2 separate regions of the Homo sapiens genome follow, and region 1 is linked to region 2. Evidence: fine-mapped QTL for protein levels in blood plasma. A gene starts in region 2. The other region holds a variant in brackets. All regions are shown on one strand. Distances are from middle to middle.

Region 1 (5,377 bases), 17 kb after region 2:
GAAACCACCTCACCCTACCCAAGGCTTGTGCCCTCTAGGCCTATGGTGGCAGTGGCAGCTCTGCCTACTTCTGAACTGCCTGTGGGGTCACTCTTCCCTTTTCTTGAAGGATAATACATATTTGCAGCTGTACAGCTGTATTGACTTATTTCATAAAATCCCAGAAGCCTGACACACTCCTTCATTTGTCCTGTCTCTGTCCCTTACAGTCCAGACTGGCAGCATTTCTGCTGAGGTGGTCAAATCTCATAACCTCTTTAGCAAACATTGCCAAGCCACAATCTTTGTGTTCTCTCCAGACACACTTTCTCGTTTTTCGCAATATGAATAGGTGACATTTTTTCAAAGCTTTAAGTTCTGGCTCCATCTTGCTTGACAATTCCTTATTTAACCTCTCTCTCTCTTCTCACATTTTATATAAGTAGCAAGGAGAAACTAGGCAGTGCCTTCAGCTCTTTGATTAGAAATCTCCACAGCTAAGTACCCAAATTTATCACTTAAACATTCTGCTTTCCACAAAACACTAGAATACAACGTGGCCGAGTTCTTTGCCACTTTACAACAAGTATGCCCTTTCCTCCAGTTTCCAGTAACATATTTCTAATTTCTGTCTGAGACCTCACCAGCAACACATTTAATATTTATATTTTTACCAACATTCTGCTCATGATCACATATGTATATCTCTAAGGTAATAGCAGCATTCCCTGCAGTGTTCCTATTTTCTTTCTGAGTGCTCACCCAAATTTTCGTTAACATTCATGTTTCTACCCAGAGTCTCTTGAAGACAATCTAGGATTTTTCTAGCACACACCTCAAAATTCTTCCAATCTCCACCCATCAGCCCATTCCAAAGCCACTTCACATTTTTAGATTTTTAGAGCTTCATCCCACTTCTGGTATCAAAATCTGTGTTAGTTTTCTAGGGCTGCCATAACAAAATACTGCAGACTGACTAGCTTAAACAACAGAAACGTATTCCACATTTCTCCAGAACACAATTCTGGAGGCCAATGAAGGTATCAGCGGCTTGGTTTCTTCTGCGGCCTCTCTCCTTGGCTCCCACATGGCCACTTTCTCTCCATGTCTTCACATGGGTGTCCCTCTGTCTATATTGTCTGTGCTCTAATCTCATCTTCTTATAAGGATACCACTCATATCAGACTAGGGCCCACCCTAATGGCCCCATTTTAACTTAATTACTTCTATCTCCAAATATAGTTCTATCTTCAAATACGGTCACATTCTGAGGTGCTAGAGGTTAAGACTTCAACATCTAAACTTTGCAGAGACACAGTTTAGCTCATAACACCATCTTTCTATCAGATAATTTGACCGTTTTCATTGATTTGTAGGGTATTCTGTATCTATTAAGGAAACGGAATTCTGTGCAGTTAATAGAATTAGAATGAATCAACTCCACATGTGTTGACAAATGACGTACAATAATTTCCAAGATATATTGTTAATTTTTTAAGGTTCAAAACAGTGTGTAAAGTATGCATATATCTGTCTATATCTAGAATACCTCTGGAAAGATCAACAAGAAACCCATAACAGTAATTGCCTCCAGGAATAGTAATTCTTGGGGAGATGAAATAAATGGCTGGAGGCTAGAAAGCTTACTTTTTTCATTATGTAGCTTTGGTATTTTCTCAATTTTTTTTAATGTATTACCTATTCAAAAGAAGAAATATTGGGCCAGGTGCAGTGGCTCATGCCTGTAATCCCAGCACTTTGGGAGGCCAAGGCAGACAGATCACCTGAGGTCAGGAGTTCGAGACCAGCCTGGCCAACTGGTGAAACTTCATCTCTACTAAAAATACAAAAATTAGCCGGGTGTGGTGCTGTGTGCCTGTAATCCCAGCTACTCAGGAGGCTGAGGCAGGAGAATCGCTTGAACCCAGGAGGCAGAGGTTGCAGTGAGCAGTGATCACGCCACTGCACTCTAGCCTGGGTAACAGAGTGAGACTCTGTCTCAAAAAAGAAATATAACTTAATGAAACATTCACACATGTGCACATACATGGTGAGCAGTGGAGATGGAACAAAAGGAAAGGAGAAGACAAGGAAGAAGATCTAGAAGCACAATGCATCCTAAATTCAGACCAAAGACACGGGCAACTCAAATTCTAGAAGCAGAGGTCCCCACTCCATAGCGTTTGGGGCTGGGCCATTCACCTATTTATTCATTGAACATTCATGAGTGTTTTTCATAAGGCAGGCTGGGTGTTAGATGTTCAGACACAGGAATCAGCCCTGTCATCAAGGAGTTCTTACACTGGTCGGGGAGAGAGAGAAGTAATCAGACTATTAGTCATGCTGAGTCATGGTGATAACACCTGTAGCGGATGTTATGGGAGTACAGAGGAGAGGCTGTCAACCCAGCCTGCAGAGAAGATGTCCCTGCGACAGGTAACGCTGGCCTCTCTCTGCTGCCCCCAACTCCCCTATTGTCACTCCCTTCTTCTCTCAGCGCTTTCCTGCTGGCAAAAGGATCTGAGCATCTTCCCATGCTGTTGTCCCTGCAGAGCAGCTGCAGGAGCCCCAAGTCACCATGAAGTCTGTGAAGGTGTCTGAGAACTTCTCCTGTAACATCACTCTAATGTGCTCCGTGAAGGGGGCAGAGAAAAGTGTTCTGTACAGCTGGACCCCAAGGGAA[C/A]CCCATGCTTCTGAGTCCAATGGAGGCTCCATTCTTACCGTCTCCCGAACACCATGTGACCCAGACCTGCCATACATCTGCACAGCCCAGAACCCCGTCAGCCAGAGAAGCTCCCTCCCTGTCCATGTTGGGCAGTTCTGTACAGGTAACTGGCTCCAACTTGGCCCTTGAGGGAATTCCAGAAACAATATGAGCAGCTGTGGAGTCTAAACCCTAGGATCCTGGTCAGACACACAGGGGGTGGGGAAGCAAGAGGACAGGCCCCAAAACCCCTTATTCTCTACTCTCAGGGACATGACAGAGGCTGGCAGGACTTGGGAAAGCCCAGAACACTGTGATACTCTAAGGTTAGAGCAAGGGAGGAGAAGACAATATGGATACAGGAGTCCAGATTGGTCTTTGCTTGGGTGGAGGTGTTTCCGGGTACCCTCAGAAGGGCAGAGAGGGGACATGAGAGTCCAAGTATTCAGTGGGCACAGCCCAGTGGAACAGGTGGTCATGGAGAAGTAGCAGGCATGCCCCTCAGAGGAGGAGGCCAGGAGAAAGAGGAAGAGGAGGAGGGACTTCAGTCCCCTCAGTCCCCTTTAGGATGCCTGGGGGCCAAGGGAGTAGGGACAGTGACTGAAGCTGCAATGTCTCATCTGTGACCCCAGATCCAGGAGCCTCCAGAGGAGGAACAACGGGGGAGACTGTGGTAGGGGTCCTGGGAGAGCCAGTCACCCTGCCACTTGCACTCCCAGCCTGCCGGGACACAGAGAAGGTTGTCTGGTTGTTTAACACATCCATCATTAGCAAAGAGAGGGAAGAAGCAGCAACGGCAGATCCACTCATTAAATCCAGGGATCCTTACAAGAACAGGGTGTGGGTCTCCAGCCAGGACTGCTCCCTGAAGATCAGCCAGCTGAAGATAGAGGACGCCGGCCCCTACCATGCCTACGTGTGCTCAGAGGCCTCCAGCGTCACCAGCATGACACATGTCACCCTGCTCATCTACCGTGAGTCTCTGGGCAGGGCACCCATCACCAGATTCCTTCTCTGAAAGCTTTCTCCTCTGCTGCCTTCTCCACCTTCCGCTTCTCCAAGGGTCTTCCCTCATACTGAAATGCCTCAGACCACTAGGACAGCTGTTCAGTTCACACCAGTTGATTCATAGGAGGCAAACTCATGACTAGCTGCTGGACAAGTCTACCCGCCAAAGTGCCCCTGGCTCTAGGCTGCCAGTTAGGCCTCCACCACCCAACTTTAGGTGCTTGCCCCGGTCCTTCTGCACTGAGTGTCAGAAGGGACTAGGAGGCCAGGTGCGGTGGCTCACACCTATAATCCCGGTACTTTGGGAGGCTGAGGCAGGTGAATCACCTGAGGTCAGGAATTTGAGACCAGGCTGGCCAACATGGTAAACCCCGTCTCTACTAAAAACACAAAAATTAGCTGGGTTCGGTGGTGGGCGCCTGTAATCCAAGCTACTCTAGAGGCTGAGGCAGGAAAATCGCTCGAACCCCAAGGGGCGGAGGTTTCAGTGAGCCGAGATCATGCCACTTCACTCCAGCCTGAGAGAAAGAGCAAGACTCCGTCTAAAAAAAACAAAACAAAACAAAACAAAGGGACTGGGAACTCACCAACCTGCATTTTTAAATTTTTGAGATGGAGTCATGCTCTGTCACCCAGGCTGGAGTACAGTGGCACGATCTCAGCTCACTGCAACCTCTGACTACCAAGTTCAAGGGATTCTTCTGCCTCAGCCTCCCAAGTAGCTGGGACTACAGGCACACGCCACCACAACCAGCTAATTTTTGTACTTTTAGTAGAGATAGGGTTTTGCCATATTGGCCAGGCAAGTCTCAAACTCCTGACCTCAGGTGATCCGCTGCCTCAGCCTCCCAAAGTGCTGGGATTACAGGCATGAGCCATGGCACCTGGCCCCAACCTGCATTTTTATAAACTATTATCATTTTGAATAAGGCCAAAGTTGGCTGGGGTGAAATCAGAGAAGACTGAGGAGAAGCCCTTGGTGTCCAAAGACACTGTGGCCTCCAAGAAGGTGGGCCACTCAGTTCCCCTGGGGGTGAGGAACAGAATTTGCATTCTACCTCCTCAGCCCTGGGCCTCACAGGAGCTTGGCTTGGCAATTTGCATGGTTTATGTTTACCTGTTCCTTCACTTGTGCCATTCAGACATGGTCAGCATACCCCCTGCCTGAGTTTGTCAATGTCTAGGTATCTGTGAAGAGTCACTATCATGGTTTTGTTAAAATATGAAGCAAGTCGGCCAAGTCCATGCCTATTGCACACAATGCCTCAAATATAAAGGAACCCACAAGGTTAAGTAAAAATAATAAACAGGAAACAAATAGAGTCAGTCTTATTGTTTCTTTTAAAGTTGCTAACATTTATTGAACATTTACTCTGTGTCAGGTACAGCGCTCACCTCTCTGCATCCCTTATCTCATATAAGTAAACAAATCAGCCTCAAAGCCAAGCCTTGAAGGGTCTTCACAGCACATGGAAGTGTTGCGCTCATCTGTGTTGATTGGTTTGCTTGCTTTCACAGCTGTAACTAACTGTATAGAATGAGGTTGTGTCTTTCTTTCTTCACTTTTCATCATTTCCCTTGTTTCTCACCTGAGCATCAAGAGGCAAAGAGGTGTGTCTGAGATGTCACAAGTAGTGAGGAAAATGCCAGGTATACTCCAAAATTCCTGTGGCTCCTGGAGGCACT
Region 2 (5,377 bases):
TATTATAAGGCTGTGTCCTCCTATGGTCACAACTTCAAAGGAGGTCATTTCAGTGATGTTACTTTCCTAAATCTCAGTTTTCTCATCTCTAAAATGGGGATAATTGGAGTATCATCCAAATAGGGTCTATCTTAGGATTAAAGGAGAAAACATATGTAAAGTTCTAAACACAGAGGCTCACTCATAGTAATTACCCAATAAATGTTAGTAATGATTTTTATTATTACCAATCTCTCTGAATTCCCTTCTGCCTTTGCCCTCGCCTCCCATGCAGACTGTTCCTGCTCTCATGTTCTGTACCCAGACTCCTTCAATAGCTTCCGCACCTGTCTTCTCATCCCCAGGCTCATCCCTTCCACCCATTCTCCCTCCACTCTGCAGCTCCAGGAAGCTTCCTACTCCTACTGGATTCTTGTTGCCTTTAGCTTGGTAACAGGATGCTTTATCTGGGCTCTGGTAACCTCTCCTGACCGTATGTCCTGCAATCCCCTCTAGACAGCCCATGTTCTAGTCACAGGACCAAGGCTAGAGTGAAACAAGACACGCTCCTAGTGCACAAAATTTAAAGATTTTCGAGATTCTGTCACTTTCAATATTGTGCAACATCAGATCATGACCAGCCTCTAAAGATGCTTTCCATGGACATAAGCCTGTTATCTTAATGGTTTCTCTCTCTCTCTCCCTTCTTCCTTTGAACCCAGACTTCCTGGGTTCAAGTCCTTACTAACTATAAAACTTATAGTAAGCTATTTAACCCCTCTCCACCTCAGTTTTCTCATTTATAGAATGGGGATGATAAAAGATATCTCATAAAACTATTGTAAGATCAAATGAGTGAATATGTTAAAGTGTCAGAAGATGGACTAGCACTCTGTAAGCTTTCATCGAATATTAGCTAAAACTACACATTCTGCCAGCCTCAAGTTTTCCTGCCAAGTCCCCTTAATGTTACAGCCTAAGTAAACAAATGACCTGAAGCCCGAAACACAAACCATAGCATGGCCAGCTATTACGCTACTGACAAGAAGAAGGAGGAGAAAAAGACAGTTTCCCAAGTCAGGATATAGGGAATCATGCCATTCTCCAGCCTACCTTTTCAACTCAGTCACCTCTACGCTGTCACATACGATGTCCACCCCCATTGCAGTCTCCCTGATGCCTTTGTCCATATTAAAAGTCCTTCATTGCATGTGACAGAAAGCTAGCACAAACTGCCTTGAGCAAAATAGAAAATGTATTGGGTCACTGTATTAGTTATCTGTTGCTGTGTAACAAATTGCCCCAAACTTCACAGCTAAAAACAATAAGCATTTTTGATGAAAAATAAAAAATTGAAAAAAAATTTAAAAACCAAACATTTATTATCTCACAGTTTCTCTTGATAAGGAATCTGGGCATGGCTTAGCTGGGTGCCTCTGGCTTAAGGTACTCACACAACTAACATCACGGTGTCAGCCAGGGCTGCAGTCATTTCAAGGACCTCCTGGGGAGGATCCACTTCCAGTCTCACTCATGTGATTCTTGGCTAGCCTCAGTCCTCATGGACAGTTGGCCAGAGGAATCAGCTCCTCGCCGATTGTTGGCTGGGGGCCTCCCTCTGTTCTTTGTTTTGGAACCCTCTCCCTAAAGTATCTCACAAAACAATACCTGGCTCCCCTCAGTGTAAGGTAGGGAGACAGAGATAGTGGGAAAGACAGAGAGGGAGAGAGGGCAAGAGAAAGAGAGAGCGCATATGCACACACATGCTAACCCAAGATGGAAGTCACAGCTTTTTTGTAACCTAATCTCAGAAGTGACCCATCCCACATCTCTGCCACATTCTATTCACTTGAAGCAAGTCACTAAATCCAGGCCACACTAAAGAAGAGGTGATTACACAGAGGCATGAATGCCAGGAGGTACAGATCTTTAGCAGTCACCTTTAGGAGCCAAATTTAGAACCCAAGTCCCTTGATGTCAAAGCAAGTGATGCTCCACATCAGTCACAAATGAGGCCCTGAATAGACTTGGGACCTCTACCTGCCTGCGCAGATGGGAGGAGTCTGTGGTGTTTTGTATAAACAACCCTCCCTCTGAGACACACACACATACACATACACATGCACACACACACTCATATACACATGCAGAAGCTGTGACACGTGCGGAAGCTGTGGTAAGTGCATCCTCCTTCAGTCTCAGTTCTGAAAATAGATCATCATGGTGGCACCAAAGAGTCACACAGATGACTGGGCTCCTGGGCCTTTCTCCAGTAAGCCACAGAGGAGTCAGCTGCAAATATTCTCTTCTGTTCTACAGACCTCTCTCCTCTTCCTGCTCATGGGTAAGTCCACTTTATGGCCACCACTTCTTGCTACTGCGGTTCTTCTGAGGCCAGTTGCATTCCCTGCCTGGGAGATTCTTTTTTTTGTTTTTTGTTTTTTTTAACGGAGTCTCACTCTGTTGCCAGGCTGGAGTGAAGTGGCGCAATCTCGGCTCACTGCAACCTCCACCTCCTGGGTTCAAGCGATTCTCCTACCTCAGCCTCTTGAGTAGCTGGGATTACAGGTGCATGCCAACACACCCAGCTAATCTTTGTATTTTTAGTAGGGGCAGGGTTTCACTATGTTGGCCACGGTGGTCTCGATCTCTTGACCTCGTGATCTGCCCAGCTCAGCCACCTGAAGTGCTGGGATTACAGGCGTGAGCCCAGTTCTTGTTGGTAAAATCGGGAAACTCATCTCCTTGCCAGAAATTACTTTGCATGTGTGCATATTCGTGCACTATGAAGGGGGTAACATTCTAGCCCCGGTCTCAAATAGCTCTGGGCTCAAACTACATTTCTCTTGCCCTCACATTTTCCTAAGAAATGCCAAGTATATAATGAGTTTGTTCCCTGTATGGTGTGGATAAAACCCACAGAGGGATCCAGGAAAATCCCCTGATGAGAAGCCACCTAGCAATTTCCTAGGGATGGAGAGAACTTCTGGAGCTTCTTTCTATGTATCCTGCCTTGGTTATCATATATGCTGGCTTTATTACTGAGGTTTCACTGGGGACCTGGACGCGGTTAGGTGACCATGGGCAAGGTGGCGTTTATCTGGATATCCTTTTCTCCTCAACCTTATTCCTCCCTATCAAGGCCCAACTCCTGGGAAACATCTCTCCGCTGCATGGCCCGGAACCCCACTGTCCAGCAGATAGAGCCAATCCAGTACCCCAGAGAGGATCTCAGCCACCTGGGACTGTGGCAGCTACTGTCCTTCTGTGCTCCCGCTTTCTCCAGGGCTTCAGGGATGATGGTGCAGGTAGCACTAGAGATCTGAGAGCAGTGGGGGTTGGCAGTTGGTGCCTGAAGGGAGCTTTAGAAACACTCCTAGATGCAGATATGGGTGAACGAGGAGCCTAGACCTCAGAGCTGAGGTCCAGTCTGACCTCTTTTCACTTTCAATTTTATCTTGGCTCATCAAAACACACAGAAAGCAGCAAGGCTGTTTATGTTTACCTCCAACCTTTGGGGTGTTCCTTGATTGTGTTGAGCAAACCTGAAATAAGCTACATTCAAGGTCATCCAAGCCGCAAATGATCAATGCAGTGAATTTCAAACAGTTCAGAGCAAAGAGGCATCTCCATTGGTCTGGCTCCACTGATTAGGATGACCTCAAATCTCACTCTTTTGGTCTGAAAGGATGATGCTTTTGTATCTCCAAAGAGTCATTTCAGGAACTTAAAAGGCAGTCGAGTGAAAAGACCCCTCTCACTTTAGTATCAGGAACATCTGAAATTAAATCATTGCTCCATCATTTATTAGTGATGAGGGCCTCTATTTCTTAAGTGTAAAATATAGTTAGTAGGATGCATCATGCAACACTCTTACAGATTGTAGATGATCTATACACACACACACACACACACACACACACGTATAGTGGCACATAGTTGGCAGAAGCTATGATTGTTATTATTATAATTACTGTTACGTGCATTCTTTGGAAACTATTAAGAGACAGGTGAGTCAAATTCAGTTTTGCAATCTTTGAATGCTCTTTTATTATTTGTCCTACGGTGCAATTCAAAATAAAATGACTGGTACTGGGGACCTGTCATTGTACTGGGAGCTGCATTGCACTGTCTTCTGCAACAAGATTTGCCCTGTGAGGCCCACATCCTGCCCCCTCCACTGAGAGTCTGTGAGGCTTTTGTTTATGGTTTTTGTCTGATGTAAGAAAATTTGAAGTCAAAACGAGTCATATGCACCCAGTCAAGACCCAGCAGCTCCTGGGCTTCCAGGATACAGATGGGCAGTACTCCTGGCCTCCCTACTCCAGGGGCATCATGGACATAGGATCTGGACTCTGTGACTGATCAACCCTGTAATCTCAGGGAAGTGGATTAAATTCTCTAAATTTCAGCTCCTCATCTGTAAAAAGGGGCTAATTATAGTATAGTTATGAGAATTAAATGAGATAATTTACATAAAGTACCTAATGCACACATAGCAATCGTAAGCAGTCTCTTCCAGATGGGAAGAGCTCTCTTTTAGAAAACCTCAAACCAACCTCACATCAACTCAGCCTGAATCTGCCTAAAGAATCCACCTGACCCAACCTTCTCATGTCCAGGATCCCTAGCCCTGCATGCTCCATAGCTGCCTCTCCACAAGGTGCAAGTGCTTGGCTGATGGAGGTCTAAGCAGAGAACCCCCATGACCTGCACCAAGCAGCCTCTCTCCTTCCAGTGTCTGCATATTCTGTATCCTCTGGGTTTTCAGAGCTTGCTTCAGCTTTCTTCCGCCCCTCCAGGCTATGCTTATGCTCCTTTTTTGTCTCTAACATTTTCTACTTATTTTCCCACCCAGAATTCCTGGTGGAGTCTGGGTCCCAAACCCATCTGTTTTGGTCTAGAATTTCAAAAGTGCTCTCCAGAGCCTCGGAAGCCCTGGAATCTGGGAATCCAAGCTAGGGTCACCCAGAAGACACCCACAGGGTCCCTACAAGAAAATTAACTGCCTTGGCCAAATACCAGCTTCCTAGATGCCTTGGTAACAATGTTTATCAGGAATATGATCTTGCCTAAGATGAGGAAATCAGGAACTGTATTAGTACCACCAGCTATTCCCACCCCCAAACCTGGCCAAACCAAAGTCAATCTGAGATGCCATGGACAATAAGGGTGAGGTAGAGGTAGGAGAAGCTCCTTTAGTTCCCGACACTGCTATGAGAGTTCTCAAACATTCAGAAAAGTTGGAGCATTTACCCTGAACATTCATAGGCCTACTACCTAGATTCTAACACAAACGTTTTACTTTGCTTGCTTTATCACTCGCCTGCCCATCTAACCATCCCTCTACCCACCCATATTTTTAAAAATATGCTCCTTTTTACTTCATTGGCTCTTC

Evidence for each region. PIP is the chance, under the fine-mapping model, that this variant and not a neighbour inherited with it causes the effect. Protein levels are from antibody-based Olink assays in UK Biobank. Linkage for the fine-mapping came from a reference panel and not from the study's own genotypes, which makes the PIPs less certain.
Region 1: its variant is fine-mapped to the plasma level of the LY9 protein (UK Biobank, PIP 0.98). The variant lies in the coding sequence of LY9. If it changes the protein, the assay may bind it differently, which can mimic a change of level.

What each region holds. Positions count from the first base shown.
Region 1 is chr1:160,811,105-160,816,481 of GRCh38, forward strand. LY9 (lymphocyte antigen 9) reads left to right here. Exons shown (of 10, transcript NM_002348.4): 3 at 2,532-2,807; 4 at 3,316-3,657. Among named protein-coding and RNA genes, the nearest start is that of LY9, 18 kb to the left of the region's middle. The variant C/A (reference allele first, on the strand shown) is at 2,663.
Region 2 is chr1:160,793,989-160,799,365 of GRCh38, forward strand. LY9 (lymphocyte antigen 9) reads left to right here and starts at 2,186. Exons shown (of 10, transcript NM_002348.4): 1 at 2,186-2,323. The coding sequence starts at 2,200.